7 linked regions of the Homo sapiens genome follow. The protein of the gene in region 4 purifies or fractionates together with the protein of the main gene of each other region. This does not show direct contact. Each region holds a gene or a part of one and is shown on either strand. Other genes may lie near its edges.

Region 1 (3,500 bases), on a different chromosome or scaffold from region 4:
GAAGGGTGGGAAGGAGAAGTCTGGCTACTTGTATCTTGGCCTGGGGATTTGTTTGGAAGATGAATTATCCTCTGGTAGTTGTGTACAGTTTACAGGTCAGTGATTAGTATGAGTCCGTGAATAGTGCCAGTTAATACTGATTAACTGCTGTACTTTTTGCCAATAAATATTGTAAAGCTATAAAGACAACAGAGTTAATACAAGTTGCTAAAGAGAAACTTGTGGTAAATGTCTTTAAATGTTGTTTAAAATAGAAATGGCCAATCTAGCAGGCATGCTGAGGAAATGATGTTTTTGCAGAAGGGAAATTTAGCAATGACAGTTTTGCAGAATATATTGGTAATGAAGTGTTACTTGTAGCTGCTGACAAATTAGTTTTCTTAAAAAATATATCCCCTAGGAAGACTGTAGTATGAAAGAATGAGAACCGTAATTGGTGGATGAGCCTGGAGAGTTTGAAGGTAAGAGAGAAAGAGAAGCAGCGAGGGAGAGAAGGAGAGAGAGAGAGAGAGAGAGTGAGTGTGTGTGTGTGTGTGTGTGTGTTTCAAGGTAACATGCAAGAACAATAAGGTTCTTCTTGTGTGGTTGTAATTTTTTTTTTTTTTTTTTTGAGACAGGGTCGCACTCTGTCACCCAGGCTAGAGCATAGTGGCATAATTATGGCTCACTACAGCCTCGACCTCTGGGCTGAGGTGATGCTCCCACCTCAGCCTCCTAACTAGCTGCGACTACAGGTGTGCACCACTGTGCCCAGCTAATTTTTGTATTTTTTGTAGAGATAGAGTTTCCTCATGTTGCCCAGCCTGGTCACAATCTCCAGGGCTTAAGCTCTGCCGTCCTTGGCCTCTCAAAGTCCTGGGATTGCAGGCTTCCACCACCGTGCCCGGCCCTTGTGTGGAATTTTTAAAAAATCCTGACTTATCTGTTTGTTTGTTTGTTTGTTTTTTTTTTTTGAGACAGAGTTTTGCTCTTGTTGCCCAGGCTGGAGTGCAATGGCGTGATCTCAGCTTACCACAACCTCTGCCTCTCACGTTCAAAGTGATTCTCCTGCCTCAGCCTCCCAAGTAGCTGGGTTTACAAGCGTGCGCCACCATGCCCAGCTAATTTCGTAATTTTAGTAGAGACAGGGTTTCTCCATTTTGGTCAGGGTGGTATTGAACTCCCAACCTCAGGTGATCCGCCCACCTCAGCCTCCCAAAGTGCTGGGATTACAGGCGTGAGCCACTGCGCCCGGCCTATCCGCACTTTTTTTTATGATTGCTCACATGTGACATGTCTTGTTTTTCTTCTAGGATGTTGAGAAAGAGAAGGAAACCCACAGTTACCTCAGCAAAGAGGAGATCAAAGAGAAAGTTCATAAATACAACTTAGCAGTCACAGACAAGTTGAAGATGACCTTGGTAAGCACTCAAAATACTATTTAGGTTGACACCTGTCAAAAGACAAATATAAATTGTTGGTACTACAATCTATAGTTCTAAATATCTGAATAGCATTTGTAGAAGTGTAGTAGTCAAGGTATACAGAACAGGAAAGTGGAATATTTCTGTGGCTTTCCATTTAAATCTGTATTGTGAAGTAGCTTTGTCTCAAAAATCAGTTGCTGGGTTAACCTTAAAAAAGTGAAACACTTATAATTTTATTTTAAAAGATTTTGTGACCCACCCCTCCCTCCTCAAAGGATTTTTAGCATCATTGCCTAACATACAGAAATGGTGACTCAGATTCTAAGAAGACCTCAGGTAAGGTTTTTTGTTTTGTTTTGTTTTGAAACAAGGTTTTGCTCTGTCACCTGGGCTGGAGAGCAGTGGCACGATCACCGCTCACTGCAGCCTCGACCTCCGGGCTCAAGTAATCCTCCCACCTCAGCCTCCCGAGTAGCTGGGACCACAGGTGCTTGCCACCATGCCCAGCTAATTTTTGTATTTTTTGTAGAGACGGGGTTTTGCCATATCACCCAGGCTCATCTCAAATTCCTTGGCTCAAGGGATCTGCCCAGCTTGGCCTCCCAAAGTGCTGGGATTACAGGTATCAGAAGCCCCTAAGTTTTTGTCTTGTACAAAATAAATATGGAAGTGTCAGGGAAAGGATTTTGAGCCCATGGATTGGAATATAGAGGTATATAATAGGATAGTTTTCTCTGCCGGTCGTTAGTGTAAGACAAGGTACTTAATACTCAGTTTCTTCCACGTCGCTGTCGCAGGCTTCCACAGCATTGTGCCACACTGAAGCATGCAGGGAGTCGGCGTACAGGAGGGAGAAGCCTCAGGGCCTGGGGATAGGGAAACGAGCTGACAGCGGAGCTAGAGTATTCATGTTCCTCTAAACTTAGCTGGCATCTAGGTCTCGCCTACCCATTGGGTGGCCCGCCTTCTTCATGGCACTTGTCAGCCCTTGGCGCCAGTTTCCAGGGCACTTGGATCCCCGTCTCTCAGTCTGTTTACTGTGAACTGACAGAGTTTGGTAAAGGACAAGGTGATTGGTTTAAAACAGGCCCTACCGAATCGGTGATTCTTGGGGAGGAGCTTTCAGATAGAAACCCTTGTGGTAAAGGACCCCTCCCTGGTAGAACTCCTCCAAAAAGAGGGGAGAGGAGCAGAGAATCCCAAGATAACTCTTCATCATTCCAGCAGCAAGATTTCTTTTTCAAACACATTTTTTCATCAAAGGAGAAATCCACTTGCTATGTTTTTTTTTTTTCCTTTCCTGATAGAGACTAAAACAGATACAAATTATCCATGTCATTTTAAAGATAAAAATTTTAGGCTGGGCACAGTGGCTCACACCTGTAATCTCAGCATTTTGGGAGGCTGAGGCGGGTGGATCACTTGAAGTCAAGAGTTCGACGGTGGCTCACGCCTGTAATCCAGCACTTTGGGAGGCCGAGGTGGGCAGATCACGAGGTCAGGAGATCGAGACCATCCTGGCTAACACAGTGAAACCCTGTCTCTACTAAAAATACAAAAATTAGCCAGGCGTGGTGGCGGGCGCCTGTAGTCCCAGCTACGCGGGAGGCTGAGGCAGAAGAATGGCGTGAACCCAGGAGGCAGAGCTTGCAGTGAGGCAAGATCGTGCCACTGCACTCCAGCCTAGGCGACAGAGCAAGACTCCATCTCAAAAAAAAGAGTTCAAGGCCAGCCTAGTCAACATGGCAAAACCCCATCTCTCCTAAAAATAGAAAAATTAGCCAGGCATGGTGGCGGGTGCCTGCAGTCCCAGCTACTCAGGAGGCTGAGGCAGGAGGATCACTTGAACTCAGGAAGTTGAGGCTGCAGTGAGCTGTGTTCGTGCCACTGCACTCCAGCCTGGGTGAGAGAGTGAGACCCTGTCTCAAAAAAGAACAAACTAGAGAATTAGGATTGAAAATTGATCTTGTGGGAAGGAAGAAAAATAACACACCATAAAGATAGTTTTAAATGTTCTACTTTAACTGTGGCATTTATATGTAACACTTGACAGTTTAATAAAACAGTACAATAAATCTTTTCTAAATATACTGT
Region 2 (2,783 bases), on a different chromosome or scaffold from region 4:
GCCTGGGGAGACAGGGCAGGGAGCAGGCTGAAGGGTGCTGACCTGATGCACTCCTCAAAGCAAGATCTTCTGCCAGACCCCCAGGAAATGACTTATCAGTGATTTCTCAGGCTGTTTTCTCCTCAGTACCATCCCCCCAAAAAACATCACTTTTCATGCACAGGGATGCACCCACTGGCACTCCTGCACCTCCCACCCTTCCCCAGAAGTCCACCCCTTCCTTCCTCACCCTGCAGGAGCTGGCCAGCCTCATCACCCCAACATCTCCCCACCTCCATTCTCCAACCACAGGGCCCTTGTCTCCTCTGTCCTTTCCCCTCCCCGAGCCAAGCCTCCTCCCTCCTCCACCTCCTCCACCTAATACATATCCTTAAGTCTCACCTCCTCCAGGAAGCCCTCAGACTAACCCTGGTCACCTTGAATGCCTCGTCCACACCTCCAGACTTCCTCAGGGCCTGTGATGAGGTCTGCACCTCTGTGTGTACTTGTGTGATGGTTAGAGGACTGCCTACCTCCCAGAGGAGGTTGAATGCTCCAGCCGGTTCCAGCTATTGCTTTGTTTACCTGTTTAACCAGTATTTACCTAGCAAGTCTTCCATCAGATAGCATTTGGAGAGCTGGGGGTGTCACAGTGAACCACGACCTCTAGGCCAGTGGGAGAGTCAGTCACACAAACTGTGAGTCCATGACTTGGGGCTTAGCCAGCACCCACCACCCCACGCGCCACCCCACAACCCCGGGTAGAGGAGTCTGAATCTGGAGCCGCCCCCAGCCCAGCCCCGTGCTTTTTGCGTCCTGGTGTTTATTCCTTCCCGGTGCCTGTCACTCAAGCACACTAGTGACTATCGCCAGAGGGAAAGGGAGCTGCAGGAAGCGAGGCTGGAGAGCAGGAGGGGCTCTGCGCAGAAATTCTTTTGAGTTCCTATGGGCCAGGGCGTCCGGGTGCGCGCATTCCTCTCCGCCCCAGGATTGGGCGAAGCCTCCCGGCTCGCACTCGCTCGCCCGTGTGTTCCCCGATCCCGCTGGAGTCGATGCGCGTCCAGCGCGTGCCAGGCCGGGGCGGGGGTGCGGGCTGACTTTCTCCCTCGCTAGGGACGCTCCGGCGCCCGAAAGGAAAGGGTGGCGCTGCGCTCCGGGGTGCACGAGCCGACAGCGCCCGACCCCAACGGGCCGGCCCCGCCAGCGCCGCTACCGCCCTGCCCCCGGGCGAGCGGGATGGGCGGGAGTGGAGTGGCGGGTGGAGGGTGGAGACGTCCTGGCCCCCGCCCCGCGTGCACCCCCAGGGGAGGCCGAGCCCGCCGCCCGGCCCCGCGCAGGCCCCGCCCGGGACTCCCCTGCGGTCCAGGCCGCGCCCCGGGCTCCGCGCCAGCCAATGAGCGCCGCCCGGCCGGGCGTGCCCCCGCGCCCCAAGCATAAACCCTGGCGCGCTCGCGGCCCGGCACTCTTCTGGTCCCCACAGACTCAGAGAGAACCCACCATGGTGCTGTCTCCTGCCGACAAGACCAACGTCAAGGCCGCCTGGGGTAAGGTCGGCGCGCACGCTGGCGAGTATGGTGCGGAGGCCCTGGAGAGGTGAGGCTCCCTCCCCTGCTCCGACCCGGGCTCCTCGCCCGCCCGGACCCACAGGCCACCCTCAACCGTCCTGGCCCCGGACCCAAACCCCACCCCTCACTCTGCTTCTCCCCGCAGGATGTTCCTGTCCTTCCCCACCACCAAGACCTACTTCCCGCACTTCGACCTGAGCCACGGCTCTGCCCAGGTTAAGGGCCACGGCAAGAAGGTGGCCGACGCGCTGACCAACGCCGTGGCGCACGTGGACGACATGCCCAACGCGCTGTCCGCCCTGAGCGACCTGCACGCGCACAAGCTTCGGGTGGACCCGGTCAACTTCAAGGTGAGCGGCGGGCCGGGAGCGATCTGGGTCGAGGGGCGAGATGGCGCCTTCCTCGCAGGGCAGAGGATCACGCGGGTTGCGGGAGGTGTAGCGCAGGCGGCGGCTGCGGGCCTGGGCCCTCGGCCCCACTGACCCTCTTCTCTGCACAGCTCCTAAGCCACTGCCTGCTGGTGACCCTGGCCGCCCACCTCCCCGCCGAGTTCACCCCTGCGGTGCACGCCTCCCTGGACAAGTTCCTGGCTTCTGTGAGCACCGTGCTGACCTCCAAATACCGTTAAGCTGGAGCCTCGGTGGCCATGCTTCTTGCCCCTTGGGCCTCCCCCCAGCCCCTCCTCCCCTTCCTGCACCCGTACCCCCGTGGTCTTTGAATAAAGTCTGAGTGGGCGGCAGCCTGTGTGTGCCTGAGTTTTTTCCCTCAGCAAACGTGCCAGGCATGGGCGTGGACAGCAGCTGGGACACACATGGCTAGAACCTCTCTGCAGCTGGATAGGGTAGGAAAAGGCAGGGGCGGGAGGAGGGGATGGAGGAGGGAAAGTGGAGCCACCGCGAAGTCCAGCTGGAAAAACGCTGGACCCTAGAGTGCTTTGAGGATGCATTTGCTCTTTCCCGAGTTTTATTCCCAGACTTTTCAGATTCAATGCAGGTTTGCTGAAATAATGAATTTATCCATCTTTACGTTTCTGGGCACTCTTGTGCCAAGAACTGGCTGGCTTTCTGCCTGGGACGTCACTGGTTTCCCAGAGGTCCTCCCACATATGGGTGGTGGGTAGGTCAGAGAAGTCCCACTCCAGCATGGCTGCATTGATCCCCCATCGTTCCCACTAGTCTCCGTAAAACCTCCCAGATACAGGCACAGTCTAGATGAAATCAGGGGTGCGGGGTGCAACTG
Region 3 (3,500 bases), on a different chromosome or scaffold from region 4:
TGAGCCACCGCGCCCGGCCTCAGAATTTTTTAAATTTTACATTTTTACCAAGGCAGGTGGATCATGAGGTCAAGAGAGTGAGACATCCTGGCCAACATGGTGAAACCCCGTCTCTACTAAAAATACAAAAATTAGCTGGCGTGGTGGCACGCGCCTGTAGTCCCAGCACTTTGGGAGGCCGAGGCGGGCGGATCACGAGGTCAGGAGATCGAGACCATCCCGGCTAACACGGTGAAACCCCATCTCTACTAAAAATACAAAAAATTAGCCAGGCGTGGTGGTAGGCACCTGTAATCTCAGCTACTCAGGAGGCTCAGGCAGGAGAATGGCGTGAACCCGGAAGGCGGAGCTTGCAGTGAGCCGAGATCGTGCCACTGCACTCCAGCCTGGGCGACAAAGCGAGACTCTATCTCAAAAAATAAATAAATAAATAAATAAAATAAAAATAAATAAAATGAAATTCCACCTATTATCTCTTAATGTAACTCCAGAAATACAGACAATAAATTATTTGTCCCAAATTGTAACACTGAATTAGAAACTTAGACTATAGATGTCCTTTTTCCTAAGAAACATGTTTATATTTAAGTTAGTTGGCATACTTAATAGCATTTAAAATAGTCAAGAAAAAATTCAAAACAGCATCATGCAATTATATTTACTACAGCACTGTCTCATTCTTTAAACACCAAATTTGTTCCTCTTTATAATGTGCAATTTTAAGTCTCACAAATACCTATGTTCAATATTGCTTCAAAAGTCAAACTTTCTCAATTTTAACACAACAATACCAAAACAGCCAGAAGTGGTGGCTCACACCTGTAATCCCAACACTTTGGGAGGCCAAGGCAGATAAGACTGCTTGAGGCCAGGAGTTCAAGACCAGCCTGGCCAACATATGGAGACACTGTCTCTACAAAAAAAAAAAAAAAAATCTTTTAATTAGGCATGGTGGTGGCATGTGCCTGTGGTCCCAGCTACTTGGGGGGTGAGCTGGGAGGATGGCTTAAGCACAGGAGGTCAAGGCTGTAGTGAGCCCTGATCACACCACTGTACTCCAGCCTGGGTGACAAAATGAGACCCCATCATTAAAAAAAAAAAAAGAGAAGGAAAAGTATAGATTGGAAACAGAGTGGGAAGCCAGGGCATCAGTAGGCTCCTTCTTGAAGGACCTCCCACTGGCCAAATCTGTGACTTGAGCATTACGTAATATTAATGGTAAGTAAACACCTATCATAGTAATACCTGAATCAAGCAAGAATTATCAATGCTAGAATTAAAAGGAGACAGTTTGATGAGAAACAAGTTATTTACATAGTGTCAACTATTTTCCCACGTATTAAAAAAAAAATTAAGTGGAGAACCTGGTGGACAACACTTTACCCAAAGTGACCAAAGTTAACATTATCAGTAATGGCATAAACAGACATCTTGTACCTCCCAGTATGATGCACTGAGAAGGATACAACCTCACTTGAAACCAGTGAAGACAGACTTGAAACCAGTGAAGACAGACTTAGGAGGGCTGGGCGCAATAGCTCACTCCTGTAATCCCAGCACTCTGGGAGGCGGAAGCTGGCAGATAGCTTGAGCACAGGAGTTCAAGACCAGCCTGGGCAACCTGGCAAAGCCCTTGTCTTACATTACAAATACATACATACACACATACACACACACAAAATTATCTGGGTGTGGTGGCATGCACCTGTAGTCCCAGCAACCTGGGAAATCACTTAAGCCCGGGGAGATGAAGGCAGCAGTGAGCCATGATCGTGCCACTGCACTCTGGCCTAGGCAACAGAATGAGACCCTATCTCAAAACAATGAAAACAACAAATAACAACTTAGGAGACATGAAACCACGGTCTCCAAATGTTCGTGGACTAGAACTTGGACCACAAAAAAATTGCTATCAAGGACATTAAGACAACTGATAAAGTCTGAATAAGATCTGTGGGTAACAACATTGTGTCAATTAAATTTCCTGATTTTGATAAATGCACTGTGGTTATGTAACTGCATGTCTTTGTTCTTGGGAACTACACACTAAAATACCTAGGAGAAAAGACATGATGTCTAGACTGTAACTCTCTGGCTCAGGAAAACATTATATATACACATTTTAAAAACATTCAAATGATAAAGCAAATGTGGCAAAATGTGGAAGAGTAAATCTGAAATTATTCCAAGGCCCAGCATGGTAGCTCACATCTGCCACTCACACTTTAGAAGGCTGAGGCAGGGGACGTGCTTGAGGCCAGGAGTTCAAGACCAGCCTTGGGCAACATAGTGAGACCCTGTCTCTACAACAACAACAACAACAACAAATTTAACTTAGCTGGGTGTGGTGGTGCGTGCCTGTAATCCTAGCTACTTGGATTAGCTACTTGGAAGGCTGAGGTGGGAGGACAGCTTGAACCCAGGAGTTAGAGGTTACAGTGAGCTATGATGCCACCGCTACATTCTAGCCTGGCAGCCTGGGTGACAGAGGCCCTGTCTCTCAAAACTTTTTTTAAAAATGTATTTCAAAACATAAAACTGGGGGGAAGGGAAGAAATGAATTTATTTCTTCTGCAAAAAAGTTAGGTGCACTAAGTTATATTTAACACTTAATAACACTTTAATGTTTATATAATTACAGGCTGGGTGTGGTGGCTCATGTCTGTAATCTCAGTACTTTGAGGCCGAGGCAGGTGGATCACTTAAGGCCAGAGTTCGAGACCAGCCTGGGCAAGGTGGCAAAACCCCGTCTCTACAAAAAAAATACAAATATTAGCCAGCATGCTGGCACACACCTATAGTCCCAGCTGCTGGGGAGGCTGAAGGCAGGAGGATGCAGTGAGCCGAGATTGCACCACTGCACTCCAGCCTGGGTAACAGGTGAAGATAAATTTAAACCAGGAACAGAGGGCCTTACACCTTGTTCAGTCCTAGCTACTTGGGAGGCTGAAGCAAGAGGATCATCTGAGCCCAGGAATTTGAGTCTGTAATGAACTATGATCACAGCTGTGAATAGTCACTGCACTTCAGCCTAGAGAACATAGCGAGACCTCATCTTAAAAAAAAAACAAAAAACAAAAAACAAAAAAACATTAAGGCCTGGCACGGTGGATCACCCGAGTAATCCTAGCACTCTAGGAGGCCGAGGAAGGTGGGATCACCTGAGGTCAGGAGTTCGAGACCAGCATGGCCAACATGGCAAAACCCCATCTCTACTAAAAATAAAAAATTGAGGCCAGGCACGATGGCCCACGCCTGTAATCCCAGCACTTTGGGAGGCCGAGGTGGGTGGATCACGAGGTCAGGAGTTCAAGACCAGCATGGCCAACATGGCAAAACCCCATCTCTACTAAAAATAAAAAATTGGGGCCGGGCACGATGGCTCACGCCTGTAATCCCAGCACTTTGAGAGGCCGAGGTGGGTGGATCACGAGGTCAGGAGTTCAAGATCAGCCTGGGCAAGATGGTGAAACCCCCACTACTAAAAAAAACAAAAAAAA
Region 4 (3,500 bases):
ATCCTGGCACTTCCTCCCTCCTAGGCCTTACTTTTCTCTGTCTGAACCATGGCTGTTGAACTGGGTGATTCTTAGCCACAGGAAGGGAGGGCCTAGATCTTCCCTAGTTTTGTGAGACTCTGCAGCTGGACAGCCATCCCTTCATGGGAGCTGCCACATTTTCACTCTCGGGGCCTCTGACAGGCACTAGGATCTAGGGACATGGCCGGCATGTGAAACCCTGGGCTGCTATGGCCAGGTCACCTCCTCAGGTCCTGGTGTTTCAGAGTGATAAAGAAGAAAGGGTGATTATGTCTCAAACATTTCATTGAGAAACCTACACTGTTCTTTTTTTTTTTTTTTTTTTTTTTGACATGGAGGCTCACTCTGTCACCCAGGCTGGAGTGCAGTGGCGCGATCTCAGCTTACTGCAGCCTCCTGGGTTCAAGCGATTGAACCCAGGGTTCAACCTCCTGGGTTCAAGCGGTTCTCCTGTCTCAGCCTCCCGAGTAGCTGGGATTACAGGCACCCATTACCACACCCAGCTAATTTTTGTATTTTTTAGTAGAGACAACGTTTCACAATGTTGGCCTGGCTGGTCTCGAACTCCTGGCCTCAGGTGATTGGCCCACCTCAGCCTCCCAAAGTGCTGGGATTATAGGCGTGAGCCACCGTGCCCAGCCAGAAACCTACACTCAATTCTAAAGCATTTTATTTCATCCTTCTTGGCTAGTTCTTCAATTATCAGTGCTTCTTTCACTCAATGGTAAATGGATTTTCCATGAGTCTTGGAGGTGGCAGGCAGGGAGAAGGGGCAGAAGGAAAGAGAAAGAGAGAACAGATGTTGGCTTTATGTTTGGAATAAAATTACACCAAAAGCTAAGAACATTTATATTTGTGCTTAGAGAAACCCCATTTCATTTCAGAAGCTCAATGCCTGGATTTTTTTGCCAGCACATTTTACACTTGTATGTTTCTCCTTGTACTCTGTGCCTCCATGTATTTCTGTTGGTCCCTTGAAAACAAGATCCAATCATCACAGGGTTAGTGCTCTGCCCTAGGTCACTCCAGTAGGGGTCCATCCTCCGGATTTAGATCTCAGGTTGGCACTTATGCAAATGCTTTCTGACAGGTCCCCTTTTTTGTGTAATCTGCTTTTTCTTTGAGGATCTAGATACCTCAGCATTCAGGGACAGTAAACATCTTAGAACTTGCCTTAGCTGTGGTCTTGCCTCTCATTAGATACACAAAGAAAAGCCTTGTTTATTTTGGAGAAGGAATTGTTTTGTTATTTTAAGCCTTAGGGCCTTGTGGTTAGAGCTACCAATAGTAGATTGGCTTCATTATGGTTTTGAAAATGATCACTTTCACAAGTAAGAACAGGCTGTCTTAGTGGAGAATATTAGAACAGAGACTCAAACTTAACTGAAAGTTGTTTTCTGTCACTGTGCCGCTTAGGGAATTCTCAGTGCGGTGATAAATATTCATGGACTTCCCAAGTGTTGTGTGTGCCTGGAGGCCAGTTTTTCACTTGTTCCAATTAACGGCAGGCTGCCTCCACACAGGAAGTGAAACCAGCCTTTAAGCCTTTTTACAATTCTGGCACATGATTTGAAGATTTGGTGATGAAAGCAATGTTCTTTGAAAGTTTTGGAGCAAATAAAAAAAAGAAGCTTTTTAGATTCACTCTTAGTTTAAAAAATAACCACTTGGGGAGTTGAAAGATGTAAGTTCTCATCCTAGCTTTGAGAGGAACCTGCAGGGACAGCTGGGGTATAGTGTGTCCTCCTTCTAAAACTCCACATCCTCACTTGTCAAATGGGAAAGCAGATGGATGATTCTAGGCCCCTTTGGGGCAGAACACTGATTCCATCTAAAGGGGAGAGGTGGGAAGGGATACTTTCTCCCATGCCGTTTGGGACACAGAGCCTCAGCCTGAGTTTGACCCTCAGCCCTGTGCGTGACTCTCGGTGTGAACTTTCTTAGACATCAGCCCAGAAACGGAGATGGAGGCTGTGTGAAGAGTTTCATTAAAAATGAGTGATGCAGCCAGGTGCGGTGGCTCACGCCTGTAATCCCAGCACTTTGGGAGGTCAGGGTGGGTGGATCACCTGAGGTCAGGAGTTTGAGACCAGCCTGACCAACATGGTAAAACCCTGTCTCTACTAAATACAAAAAATTAGCCAGGCGTGGTGGCGCATGCCTGTAATCCCAGCAACTTGGGAGGCTGAGGCAGAAGAATCACTTGAACCCAGGAGGCGGAGGTTGCAGTGAGCCGAGATTGTGCCACTGCACTCCAGCCTGGGCAATAACAGTAAAACTCCGTATCAAAAAAAAGAGTGATGCTAGTGGGTTCTTTGCTGTTGACAGTTGCCATTCCCTGCCACCTGGGCTGTCTGTTCCTCCAGTAAGTACCCCCTCCAACTCTGGGGCAATAGAATAGTCTGGAAACATGGAGGTATATTTCTGAGAATATTGGATCTCCCCAAACACATATGACCTCTTCCTGCTAAATCTTCTGAGAGACAGAGGGATGGACTAAGCTTTTTCCGGGGTGGATGGAGTGGGGCATATCCCCCCTGAGGGGGAACAGCAGAATCTTCAGGATCAGGGAGAATGATGTCATTTTCAAAAGTTTATTCATTCAATATTATTATGTCATTTTATAATTGGAAATTTAAAAAATATTTTGTGATATAAACTGTAGAATGCAACGCTCTTAAATATTCTGGCTGGGAAGATAAGGATAAAGACAATGATTCATGACAGGGGTTCTCAAGAAGAGGTATGCTTCAGAACTACCTAGGAAGCATTTTCGCAAGGTAGAAGCTCAGGTTCCCAGGACCCGTGGACTCAATCTTTGGGGCTGTGGCCCTGCCTTGTGTATGTCCAAGCTATTCTGTGCCACCTCTTTCGTTACACTCCACTGATGCAGTATATCTGATGTCTGATTCTTGGGCAGTGGTGGGGAGCCTCTCTCTATTACCCCATCCCAGGAGGGGTATGTATCAGAACCTGGCCATTGAGGGTAGGAGTAAGCTAATTATGCTTATCCAAGGGAGGTGGCAATTCCTAGACAAAGTGAGAATGTTGAGCTGGATGATTCATTAAGCCAAGTGCCCTTAGGATTTTAGGACCTGTTGGTGGAAAGAGATACAGCTAATCAGGTGGGCCAACCAGTAAATAGTAAGGCCTTTCCCTTTTTACCATTATATTTTTTCCTCTCAGCTACTCTTTATACTCACATCTTATTATAAAATATTTAGGATACACAAAAGGATTTAACAGGTAATAAAACTCGCCTGTGTACTCACTACTTGACGTAAGAAGTCAGACATTAACACTACAGTGGAAGTCCCCGGTCGTTCCTCTCTCCAGTGTCATCCCCTCACTCCCACCCAGAGAAAACCATTATCCCACATTGGGTGTTTCAATTCCCATGCATGTCTTTATCCTTTGATCATGATTGACATGATTATGTTGGTAACACTCTATAGTGTTGTTTTGCACCATGTCAGTTA
Region 5 (3,500 bases), on a different chromosome or scaffold from region 4:
ATATATTAATTTAAAAGACAGAAGGTCTAACAAAACTAAAAGTATTGAGCTTCAAATTCTTTAAAATGCAATTTTCTAAATCAATTACTATCAACTTTTAGTAAAGAGTAAGCGAGCCTAGGCCAGGTATGGTGGTTCACATCAGTAATTCTAGCACCTTGGGAAGCCAAGGCAGGAGGAACAGTTGAGGCCAGGAGTTGTTCCGAGACCAGCCTAAGCAACACAGCAAGACTCCCTGCAAAAACTTAAAGCAAGCCTACCACTTCCTTTATAATACCGAACATGTTAGAATAGCACTATTTCAAGTCATTGACATTGATTAGTTCATTGTGTTAGGCAAGTTAAGAATAGCACTAAAAAATTATCAATTCTTTCCATGTACTATTTTTCAATTATTGAACACACTGATAAATGAACATTTAGAGAATAGAAAAACAAGTTCCTTCCTCATTATAGACACAAAATTAAACATATCAAACCCACACATCAGAATTATTTTTTAAAAGTTAATGTAATCATCTGTTTGGAGCATCATTATGGCTTATTCAAAAGAGAACACTTACACATATACTTTTTCCATTAATTTAAACACATATAGCTCACTTTACACAGCCAGATTTCAATTAGGATATGCCTATAGCAGAGAGCATAACCAAAAAAAGTGAAACTGTAGTCACTCCAATTGTTAACACTGAGAGGCAGAGTTTGAATCAGGTCAAAATTAGAAAGGACACAACAGGCCATGTATGATGGCTCATGCCTGTAAACCCAGCATTCTGGGAGGATCACTTGAGGCCAGGAGTTCGAGATCAGCCTGGGCAACATAGTGAGACCTCATCTCTACAACAAAAAATTATCTGGGCATGGTGGCCCACACTTGTAGTGTCTGCTACTCAGGAGGCTGAGGTAGGAGGACTGCTTGAGCCCAGGAGGTCGAGGCTGCACTCCAGCCTGGGCAACAGAGCAAAATCAGCAAGATCCTATCTTTTTTTTTTGAGACGGAGTCTCACTGTGTCGCCCAGGCTGGAGTACAGTGGCGCAATCTCGGCTCACTGTAAGCTCTGCCTCCCGGGTTCGCGCCATTCTCCTGCCTCAGACTCCCGAGTAGCTGGGACTACAAGCGCCGGCCACCACGCCTGGCTAATTGTTTGTATTTTTAGTAGAGACGGGGTTTCACCGTGTTAGCCAGGATAGTCTCGATCTCCTGACCTCGTGATCCACCTGCCTCGGCCTCCCAAAGTGCTGGGATTACAGACATGAGCCACCGCGCCTGGACGCAAGATCCTATCTTTAAAAAAAAAAAAAAGAAAAAAAGGAAGAAAAAAGGATGCAATGTTTACAGAAATAAGTCTATTAATCAACTTTTCACACTAATTCAGTACTATAATCAGGCATATAAAAGACAAATTTACCTCCTTTGAGTCATCTATTCTCTCAAAATACACAAAAGCAAATCCTCGAGATCGCCCAGTTCGCTGATCATAAACCACATTGACACCACTCAATGGTCCATATCGAGAAAATACTTCACGAAGATCCCTCTCTGTTGTGTACAAACTGAGGCCAAACACTCCAAGGCAAGTGTTGGGATCTGGATTTGCCTATTGAATGGAAATATTATTTAAAACTCCAAATTAAAATCAAAATCAAAGAAACACAGAAATACTTTGTTTAGAACACCTCATCTAATACACAATAAATATATTGTTTCTAATAATTTGGAGATAAGATTTTAAGAGAACTAGAGCAGATGAGCCATATTTTACAATTCACAGTACACCCAAGGCCTTCTTTGGGATATGCTTTCTGTCTATAGCCTGAATTAAAATGTTCTTACTCTCCAGCCCAGCAATGTTCATAATGTATCCTGAAAATCTTGTAATCCCAGCATTTTGGGAGGCTGAGGTGGGTGGATCACCTGAGGTTAGGAGTTCGAGACCAGCCTGGCCAACATGGTGAAACCCCATCTCTACTAAAAATACAAAAATTAGCTGGGCATGGTGGCCGGCGCCTGTAATCCCAGCTACTCCAGAGGCTGAGGCAGGAGAATCGCTTGAATCCAGAAGGTGGAGGTTGCAGTGAGCCAAGATCGAGCCATTGCACTCCAGCCTAGGCGACAAGAGTGTTAGAAATGTTTGTTTCTCGGTGTTGTAAAGAAATAGCACTTGAACATACATTTTTTTAGTAAGGCCATTTTTATTTTCTGTAGAAAGGGTACGCTTGTCAGCAGTTTTGTCACAAGAGTACACTGAACAAAGGAGACAGGGTCATTTATAATCTGACGTGTCTACCTTACTGTTGTGTCTGTTTTTTATTGGCTGGAATGGGACTTCACATTCTGATTTGTCTTGATTGGCTAGTAACTTCAAACTTTTTAAAAGAGGCAAAGGCGGAGGAGAACAAAGGAAGGAGGAAGTAATTTGTGGAATGTTGAGAAAGGTAAAAACACCTTTAAATAAGGAAGAGGAACAGGCTATGACCTAATGCTTGTTTGGACCAGTATAAGCATGTTAGGGCAAATACTTAGGCTAAATTGTGGGAGCTAAGAACATAAAGTACATTGATTTTTTTACTACGGCTAGTAGATTTTTTTTTTTTTTTTTGAGACGGAGTTTCACTCTTGTTGCCCAGGCTGGAGGGCAATGGTGCGATCTTGGCTCACCGCAACCTCCACCTCCCGAGGTCCAGCCATTCTCCTGCTTCAGCCTCCCAAGTAGACGGGATTACAGGCATGCACCACCACCCCCAGCTAATTTTGTATTTTTAAGTAGAGATGGGGTTTCTCCATGTTGGTCAGCCTGGTCTCCAACTCCCAACCTCAGGTGATCCACCCCACCCGGCCTAGCAGATATTTAAGAATGTTAGCACAGCTCTTTGAATAAATTTTGCTTCTAAGAGAAATTATTATCTATTTCTAATTAGATGGGGAGGAAAATCTCTTTGAACAACCTTTACTTTTTATAAGAGTGAAACTCCGTCTCACTTATAAAAAAAAAGTATCCTCAGTTTAATACCATCTTTCTAGTTAATTCAAATGCTTTACATCCCTTACAGATTTGTACTTAATCTGACTTCATCTGTAATTGTTGATTTAGACCTCCTCTCCTCCATTTTCTTTCTTTTTTTTTTCTGAGACAGGGCCTCACTCTCTTGCCCAAGCTGGAGTTTACTGGCCTGATCATGGCTCACTGCAGCCTTGGCCTCCTTGGGCTCAGGGAATCCTCCCATCTCAGCCTCCCAAGTAGTCGGGATTACAAGCGTGAGCCAATATGCCTGGCCCATTTTCATTCTTTAGCGAGGATATTCTTTCAGTGTTCCCACAATCCAGATTTTAGAAATAAATTTACAGATTTCAAAACATTAAATAATGACATGCTCCACCACAGTTTAAGTTAGTATCCTGTGGGAGAAGCATAGTACAGCATGCAAACATGTTCTAAGAACTTTAGAGCCCGGCTGCCTGGTTGAAACCTAGACTGCTAGTTAGCAAAAACTAAACC
Region 6 (3,500 bases), on a different chromosome or scaffold from region 4:
AAGCTGTGTGCAGGTATGAGGCCTTGGGTCTGCCAGTGTCTGGGGAGGTGAGGCTGGGCATGGGTGTGAGACCCTGGGTCTGTCCATATCTGAGGAGGTAGGATCTGGTATGAGTATGAGGATCTGGGTGTGTCCGTGTCTGAGGAGGTGGGCCCTGGCACAGGTATGAGGCCTGGGGTCTGTCCGTGTCTGAGGAGGTGGGCCCTGGCGCAGGTATGAGGCCCTGGGTGTGTCCGTGTCTGAGGAGGTGGGCCCTGGCACAGGTATGAGGTCCTGGGTCTGCTGGTGTCTGCAGAGACAGGGCCCGACATCTCAGGGAAGACCACGGTAAGCTCTTCAGTTTGTCTTGTGGCTGTGGTCAGTCATCTGTAGTCTGCCCTGTTGGTCTTCCCATGTGTTGCCAGCACCTGCCTGCTGCCTTGCTTCCTGGAGGTGGGTTGGGCCAGGGCCCTCCGAGACGCCCCTGTGCAAGACCAGGGACAGGGTTTCCGGCAGGAGGTGGGGGGCGGGGTGTGCCGGCCCTCCCTCAGCACCTTGTCCTGTCTCTCCTAGTGGGTGGGAGGACGCTACTCGCTGTGGTCGGCCATCGGACTCTCCATTGCCCTGCACGTGGGTGAGTGTGTTTCTGTGTCTTGCAGCCCCTGTGGGAGACAGTGTTGCAGTCTAAGGTCGGGGTAGGGGGCTTGTGTCCCTGAACATCATGCTGTCCTCACAGGCTGCTGGCCTCTCTGCAGCTGGCTGGGATATTTATTTCATGTCCAGAAGGAAGGTCTGGGTTTTTTTGCGTGTGCAAGTTGGCCCCCGTCTTTGCCCCTCACAACTGCAGTCCTGTTTCTCTCCTATCCTAGGCAGAGTCAGATCCCTGCACTCAGGGCCACCTCTCACTGGAGGGGCTTTGTCTAGGTCCGAGTCCTCCCATGTCGTATCTTCTGGCTCTCCATGCAGCCTTCCTTCGTTGCAGAAGGAGCTGTGCCCACTGCCCACAGGACGCAGGGTGTGGCCACTTCTGTTGACTCTGCTTTTGTGTCACAGGTTTTGACAACTTCGAGCAGCTGCTCTCGGGGGCTCACTGGATGGTGAGTGCTGAGGCTGGTTCTCTGCCAAGTGCTGGCCAGAGGCGCGTGTGTTGGTCCTGGTCCCCCGCTTTCTCCCCCACTGTCCTGTCCCTCCCCTCCCCGTGCAGCTGCTCAGCTCCCACTCATCCTGCTCCTGTTTCAGGACCAGCACTTCCGCACGACGCCCCTGGAGAAGAACGCCCCCGTCTTGCTGGCCCTGCTGGGTATCTGGTACATCAACTGCTTTGGGTGTGAGACACACGCCATGCTGCCCTATGACCAGTACCTGCACCGCTTTGCTGCGTACTTCCAGCAGGTACCAGCTGCCAAGCCAGGCCTTGGAGTCAGCAAGATTTGTGGGGGGTCTGGGAGGTCTAGGAACCTGGGTTTCAGCTCCTCCAGGAGCTCTTTGCCCCATTGCCCTTGGGCCTGGCCAAGGTCCATCTGTGCTCCTTGTCTCAGGATGAATCTTTGTAACTGAGGTTGGTTCCATTTGAGTGTCATCTGAGTTTGATCACCATGGGAGGGGCATGACTGGTGATCATGGTGCCCTGGCTAGGGAGGTCCTGGCTTGACTCAGGGGATGTTTCTCAGCTGGGGTCACTTCTTTCTTGCACATCACTATGCATGCCTACCATAGTGTCTGAGGACGTAGGATCTAGCCCTGGTATGAGGCCCTAGGTCTGTTAGTATCTGGGGAGGAAGGATCTGGTACAGGTATGAGGACCTGGGTCTGTCCATGTCTGAGGAGGTGGGATTTGGCCATAGGGTGGGGCTGCAAGCTGGAATCCCTTATAGCCTGCACTGCCTTTATCCCTCCAGAAAAGCAAGTGTGTATCTAGTCTGTGGTGGCCTCTTTGGACTACATGGCCCTCTTCTCCCTTGGGATCTCCAGAGCCCCCCGAGAGGCTTAGCAGGCCCTCTCCTAGTCACATTATGTCCCAGAAAGCTTTTCCACACCTGTCCCTGCTTTTTTTTTTTTGAACAGATTCTCACTCTGTTTCCCAGGCAGGAGTGCAGTGGCGCGATCTCGGCTCATTGCAACCTCCGCTTCCTGAGTTCAAGCAATTCCTGTGCCTCAGCCTCCCGAGTAGCTGGGATTGCAGGCATGCACCACCTTGCCTGGCTAATTTTTGTATTTTTAGTGGAAACGGGGTTTCACTATGTTGCCCAGGCTGGTTTCGAACTCCTGGCCTCAAGCGATCCACCTGCCTTGGCCTCCCAAAGTGCTGGGATTACAGGCATGAGCCACCATGCCCAACCCTATCCTTGCTTTTGTTTAGTACAAAGCCAGTCCCTGTCCAGCAGCTCTTGAGTTGCTCTGGGCAGGTACAGAAGGCTTCACCAACACCTGGAAGCAAATCCTGTGACTGAAGGAGAGGCCAAGGTTCCCCAAATCCCAGCTGCCTTGGTGAGGGTTGCCATGACCAGGGCCCAGGTGGGTACCCAAAGCCTAGCATTTAGTTGTGGTGACAGCCCTCAAAGGCTGTACTCTTAGCCAGGCATGGTGGCTGATGCCTGCAATCCCAGCACCTTGGGAGGCAGAGGCTGGGGGGAATTGCTTGAGCCCAGGAGTTCAAGACCAGCCTGGGCAACGTAGTGAGGCCCGGTCTCTACAAAAAAAACCCACAAAAACTAACAGTAGCCAGGCATGGTGGTGCGGCACCTATAGTCCCAGCTACTTGGGAGGCTGAGGCAAGAGGCTTGCTTGAGCCCAAGAGGTCGAGGCTTCAGTGAGCAATGATTCTACCACTGTACTCCAGCCTGAGTGACAGAGTGAGACTCTGTCTCTTTGGGAAAAAAAGAAGCTGTGCACTCTGGACCCCAGCCTGCTCTCCCTTAAGAAATGAGCTGATTTTGTGACCGATTTTGTCTTTAGGGAGGTCCTTGCCTGACCTCCAGACCCACCTTTTCCTGGGCATGAGTCCTTCCTGCACAGTGGCTTAAGCAGGAAAGGTTGGGAGGCTGTGTCCTCACTGGTGTGGGGAGGAAGGGGATCGTGCCTGTGGACACGTGTGCAGGTCCACCTCACGGTGTCAGGGCAGGGTGGGTCTGCCTGGAGCATCTGGGCAGGACTTTGGCATGGTGCAGGAAGGAGCAGGATTTGCGTACAGTGTGTGAAGGATCAAGACTTGCAGGAAGAGGGTTGGGTTTTTTTTCTTTCTTTTCCTTTCTTTTCCTTTTTTTTTTTTTTTCTTTTTTTTTGAGTTGGAGTTTTGCTCTTGTTGCCCAGTCTGGAGTGCAGTGGCATGATCTCGGCTCACCACAACCTCCGCCTCCCGGGTTCAAGCGATTCTCCTGCCTCAGCCTCCCAAGCAGCTGGGATTACAGGCATGCGCCATCACACCTGGCTAATTTTGTATTTTTAGTAGAGACAGGGTTTCTCCATGTTAATCAGGCTGGTCTCAAACTTCCAACCTCAGGTGATCCGCCTGCCTTGGCCTC
Region 7 (3,500 bases), on a different chromosome or scaffold from region 4:
TCAGGAAGGGTAAGTAACTCCTGCTGCTGTGCAAGTGTTTCTGCTACTCCTTTTTAGAAGCTGATGAATGGGACTCACCAAAAATTGCACACCCTATTTGTATCAGAATAACTCTCAGCCACTTCTCAGACTCAAATCCTCCATTCAAATATGACAATCTGCTACCTCTAAGGATACTTGGAATCAGTTCCAAGAGGAAATGCAAAAATATTCTGAAGAAATGCAGAAGCGGATTGACTGGCATACAACAAGGTTTCTGTCCACCAAGACTGCTTGAGAAGCACTCACTGCGGAAGACCTAAGGACCAGGACAAGAACAGGGCCCCCCACGAGCCAACACAGAAAGGGCCCCACAGCTTCTCATATGCATCACTTTTTCTGTCTGACAAACATTAATCATCAGGTAAATGAAATTAATATCAAATTAATGGCACCAAGACAACATCGTACATAAGTTAAGTACATGGCCTCTGGAATTAGCCTGATCTTAGTTCTTATTCTGTTATGAGCTGTGTGTCATCTGGAGATGTTTTTTAGTTCTTGCCTTCCCAATTTCCTCAACTGAAAATGGGGACAACAGCACCTCATGTTGCTATTAGAAGAATTAAAGGGCACATGCTGGGCGCGGTGGCTCACACCTGTAATCTCAGCACTTTGGGAGTCTGAGGCAGGCGGATCACCTGAGGTCAAGAGTTCAAAACCAGCCTGGCCAACATGGTGAAAACCGTCTCTACTAAAGATACAAGAAAATTAGTCGGGCTTGGTGGTGGGCGCCTATAATCCCAGCTACTCACTTGGGAGGCTGAGGGAGGAGATCACTTGAACCCAGGGGGCAGAGGTTGCAGTGAGCTGAGATCGCGCCACTGCACTCCAGCCTGGGCAACAACAGCAAAACTCTGTCTCAGAAAAAAAAAAAAAAAAAAAAAAAAAAGAAAGGAAGGGCATAATGCCAATGCCTGGTAGGTAGTATTCAGGAAATACTACCCACTATAATCTTACTATCCATTTGATATGTTTCTAACAGGAAAAAAATTTAGGTTTAAAAACAACATCCAGGTTAATACTTGAGGTTAACTCTTAAGATAGGTATCAACTGGCTGTGTTTTTTTTTTTGTTTGTTTGTTTTAAACAAGAGATAGGGTTCTGTCAGACTCTGCCACCCAGGCTGGACTTCAATTGCACAATCATAGCTTAGTACAGCCTTGAACTCCTGGGCTGCTCCTTCCACCTCAGCTTTCTGAGTTACCGGATTACATGAGTGCATCAAGGCACCCAGCTCAACAATTGCTTCTTAACAGGAAAACACCAACTTCTAACCTCTTCCTAGTTCAATGCTTTCAAGGTACCTAGGCCATAACACCACAGATCAAGTCCGGCAACAGGAAGAGTCTGAATGGTTGTCCTCAAAATGTCTCATACTGTATGCCGCAAATGGATAGCAAGTACATATGAAATGTTATAAGACATCACCTTTCAACAAAACAAATTGGTTCAGAATCATCTGAACCAACTGACCCTTATTCTACTGAACTGGCATTACAGAACAACTTACTTCCCAATATGAAACTGATCACCTATTTTAATTGTGGAACTGATACATTCAGGGCACATTCTAGAGACATTGCCGGTTACCTACAGCATGTTCCTGAAGCTGCTCCGGAAGCTCTTTCATTTCCCCCTCGACTAGCTCTCTACTATCCGACAGGGACTCCTGGAGGTTATCAGCATCATCGTCTTCGACACAATCTGCAACGCTTCCATTATCAATTTCTGCTTCATCCAACACACTGATATCCATGATGTCGATGTCCTGCAAGTTCTCCAGACTGGTCTCAACATCCTCCTGTGACACAACCAGACCGAACCATCATGTGACCGCCACTGGTCCATCCACCACGCTACTCACTCGCAAGGCTGCACATACCTGTCCATCCCCAGAGTTTTCCTCCAGCCCGTTATCTTCCACACCCTCTTCTTCTGGTTTGCGCCCTGAAGACAGAATCATTTACAGCATGAGATCAAATGATACGCACTTTACAGAAGCAACAATGCCCTGAGCACTACACAAGTGGTCACTTTATAAACATCTGAGACACCTCACTACTTAGGAACACTTCCTAATCCAGGAATGAGGCCATTCCGCACAAGACAGCCCTGCCCCACCCCCAAGCAGAAGAGGTTCTGTTCTTGTCTGAGCTGTGGAAGTAGAAGTGCAGAAAACAGGTTCTTAGTAAAGTTGAACAGGATCAGACCTGTCCTCAGCTCTGCCCTTCTTCCTATCCCAAGTGTCCTTGTTTGAGGGAAAAATTATTTGTTGCAAATGTGCTGCCTTTTAGTTAAGGAACATGTTTTCCCACAGAAACTGCGCATGCCCGAGTATGCACATTTTTAATGCTTAAAAAGAAAAAAGAAGGGCCGGATGCGATGGCTTACGCCTGTAATCCCAGCACTTTGGGAGGCCTAGGCGGGCGGATCACCTGAGGTCAGGAGTTCGAGACCAGCCTGGAAAACATGGTGAAACCCCGTCTCTACTAAAAATACAGGACAATCACTTGAACCCAGGAGGCGGAGGTTGCACTGAGCCGAGACTGCGCCACTGCACTCCAGCCTGGGCAACAAGAGCGAAACTCGGTTAAAAAAAAAAAAAAAAGAAAAACAAAAAACCCACATACTATCAAGATACTCCAGAGGGGCTGGGCACGGTGGCTCATGCCTGTTAAGTCCAGCACATTAGGAGGCCGAGACAGGTGGATCACTTGAGGTCAGGAGTTTGACACCAGCCTGGCCAACCTGACGAAACCCTGTCTCAACTAAAAATACAAAAAACTAGCTGGTTGTGGTGGCGGTTGCCAGTAATCTCAGCTACTCAGGAGGCGGAGGCAGGAAAATCGCTTGAACTCTGGAGGTTTAGGTTGCAGTGAGCTGAGATCGTGCCGCTGCACTCCAGCCTGGATGACAGAGCAAGACTCTGTCTCAAAAACAAAACAAAACAAAACAAAAATTGCAGAGGAAGGTTTTTTTTTAACTTATACATTTCCATCAACAGCGAATTAAAAAGTGCCAATCTCGTGCACTTGTAGTCCCAGCCACTCGGGAGGCTGAGGCAGGAGAATCGCTTGAATCCGGGAGGCAGAGGTTGCAGTTAGCCGAGATCACACCACTGCACTCCAGTCTGGCAACAGAGCGAGACTCCATCTCCAGAAAAAAAAAAAAAAAAAAAAAAAGCCAATCTTTCTTGAATCTCTGTTAAAAATTTGCTATTTTTCTTTATCTTTGCCAATATGCTAGGTAAGAAAAGGAATACTGTTTTAACACGAATTTATCTCCTGACTACTCAAATTGCTTTGAATCATTTGCTTTTTGTTGTTGATCACCTGTACTTTTCTAAAAATTTCTGATTTACACCCCACTATTTAAAAACTTCGGCTCCAGCCAGGCGCGGTGGCTCACGCCTGTAATCCCAGCACTTGGGAGGCCGAGGCAGGCGGATCACCTGAGGT

The links.
Region 1: the proteins of MERTK (region 4) and RASSF3 purify together in Homo sapiens (affinity purification with mass spectrometry, with the first as the bait; one large-scale study listed by BioGRID). This does not show direct contact.
Region 2: the proteins of MERTK (region 4) and HBA1 purify together in Homo sapiens (affinity purification with mass spectrometry, with the first as the bait; one large-scale study listed by BioGRID). This does not show direct contact.
Region 3: the proteins of MERTK (region 4) and YTHDF2 purify together in Homo sapiens (affinity purification with mass spectrometry; one large-scale study listed by BioGRID and IntAct). This does not show direct contact.
Region 5: the proteins of MERTK (region 4) and TRA2A purify together in Homo sapiens (affinity purification with mass spectrometry; one large-scale study listed by BioGRID and IntAct). This does not show direct contact.
Region 6: the proteins of MERTK (region 4) and GPI purify together in Homo sapiens (affinity purification with mass spectrometry; one large-scale study listed by BioGRID and IntAct). This does not show direct contact.
Region 7: the proteins of MERTK (region 4) and SAFB purify together in Homo sapiens (affinity purification with mass spectrometry; one large-scale study listed by BioGRID and IntAct). This does not show direct contact.

The regions. Positions count from the first base shown.
Region 1 is NC_000012.12:64,683,495-64,686,994, forward strand, and holds part of RASSF3 (ras association domain-containing protein 3), read left to right. Parts: intron 1-1,292; coding exon 1,293-1,400; intron 1,401-3,500.
Region 2 is NC_000016.10:175,240-178,022, forward strand, and holds HBA1 (hemoglobin subunit alpha), read left to right. Parts: upstream 1-1,440; 5' UTR 1,441-1,477; coding exon 1,478-1,572; intron 1,573-1,689; coding exon 1,690-1,894; intron 1,895-2,043; coding exon 2,044-2,172; 3' UTR 2,173-2,283; downstream 2,284-2,783. UniProt on the Homo sapiens protein: Involved in oxygen transport from the lung to the various peripheral tissues.
Region 3 is NC_000001.11:28,764,440-28,767,939, reverse strand, and holds part of YTHDF2 (YTH domain-containing family protein 2), read right to left. Parts: intron 1-3,500. UniProt on the Homo sapiens protein: Specifically recognizes and binds N6-methyladenosine (m6A)-containing RNAs, and regulates their stability. M6A is a modification present at internal sites of mRNAs and some non-coding RNAs and plays a role in mRNA stability and processing.
Region 4 is NC_000002.12:111,905,107-111,908,606, forward strand, and holds part of MERTK (tyrosine-protein kinase Mer precursor), read left to right. Parts: intron 1-3,500. UniProt on the Homo sapiens protein: Receptor tyrosine kinase that transduces signals from the extracellular matrix into the cytoplasm by binding to several ligands including LGALS3, TUB, TULP1 or GAS6.
Region 5 is NC_000007.14:23,511,482-23,514,981, forward strand, and holds part of TRA2A (transformer-2 protein homolog alpha), read right to left. Parts: intron 1,602-3,500; coding exon 1,413-1,601; intron 1-1,412. UniProt on the Homo sapiens protein: Sequence-specific RNA-binding protein which participates in the control of pre-mRNA splicing.
Region 6 is NC_000019.10:34,392,696-34,396,195, forward strand, and holds part of GPI (glucose-6-phosphate isomerase), read left to right. Parts: intron 1-552; coding exon 553-613; intron 614-1,032; coding exon 1,033-1,076; intron 1,077-1,218; coding exon 1,219-1,371; intron 1,372-3,500. UniProt on the Homo sapiens protein: In the cytoplasm, catalyzes the conversion of glucose-6-phosphate to fructose-6-phosphate, the second step in glycolysis, and the reverse reaction during gluconeogenesis.
Region 7 is NC_000019.10:5,640,083-5,643,582, reverse strand, and holds part of SAFB (scaffold attachment factor B1), read right to left. Parts: intron 1,990-3,500; coding exon 1,925-1,989; intron 1,844-1,924; coding exon 1,637-1,843; intron 1-1,636. UniProt on the Homo sapiens protein: Binds to scaffold/matrix attachment region (S/MAR) DNA and forms a molecular assembly point to allow the formation of a 'transcriptosomal' complex (consisting of SR proteins and RNA polymerase II) coupling transcription and RNA processing.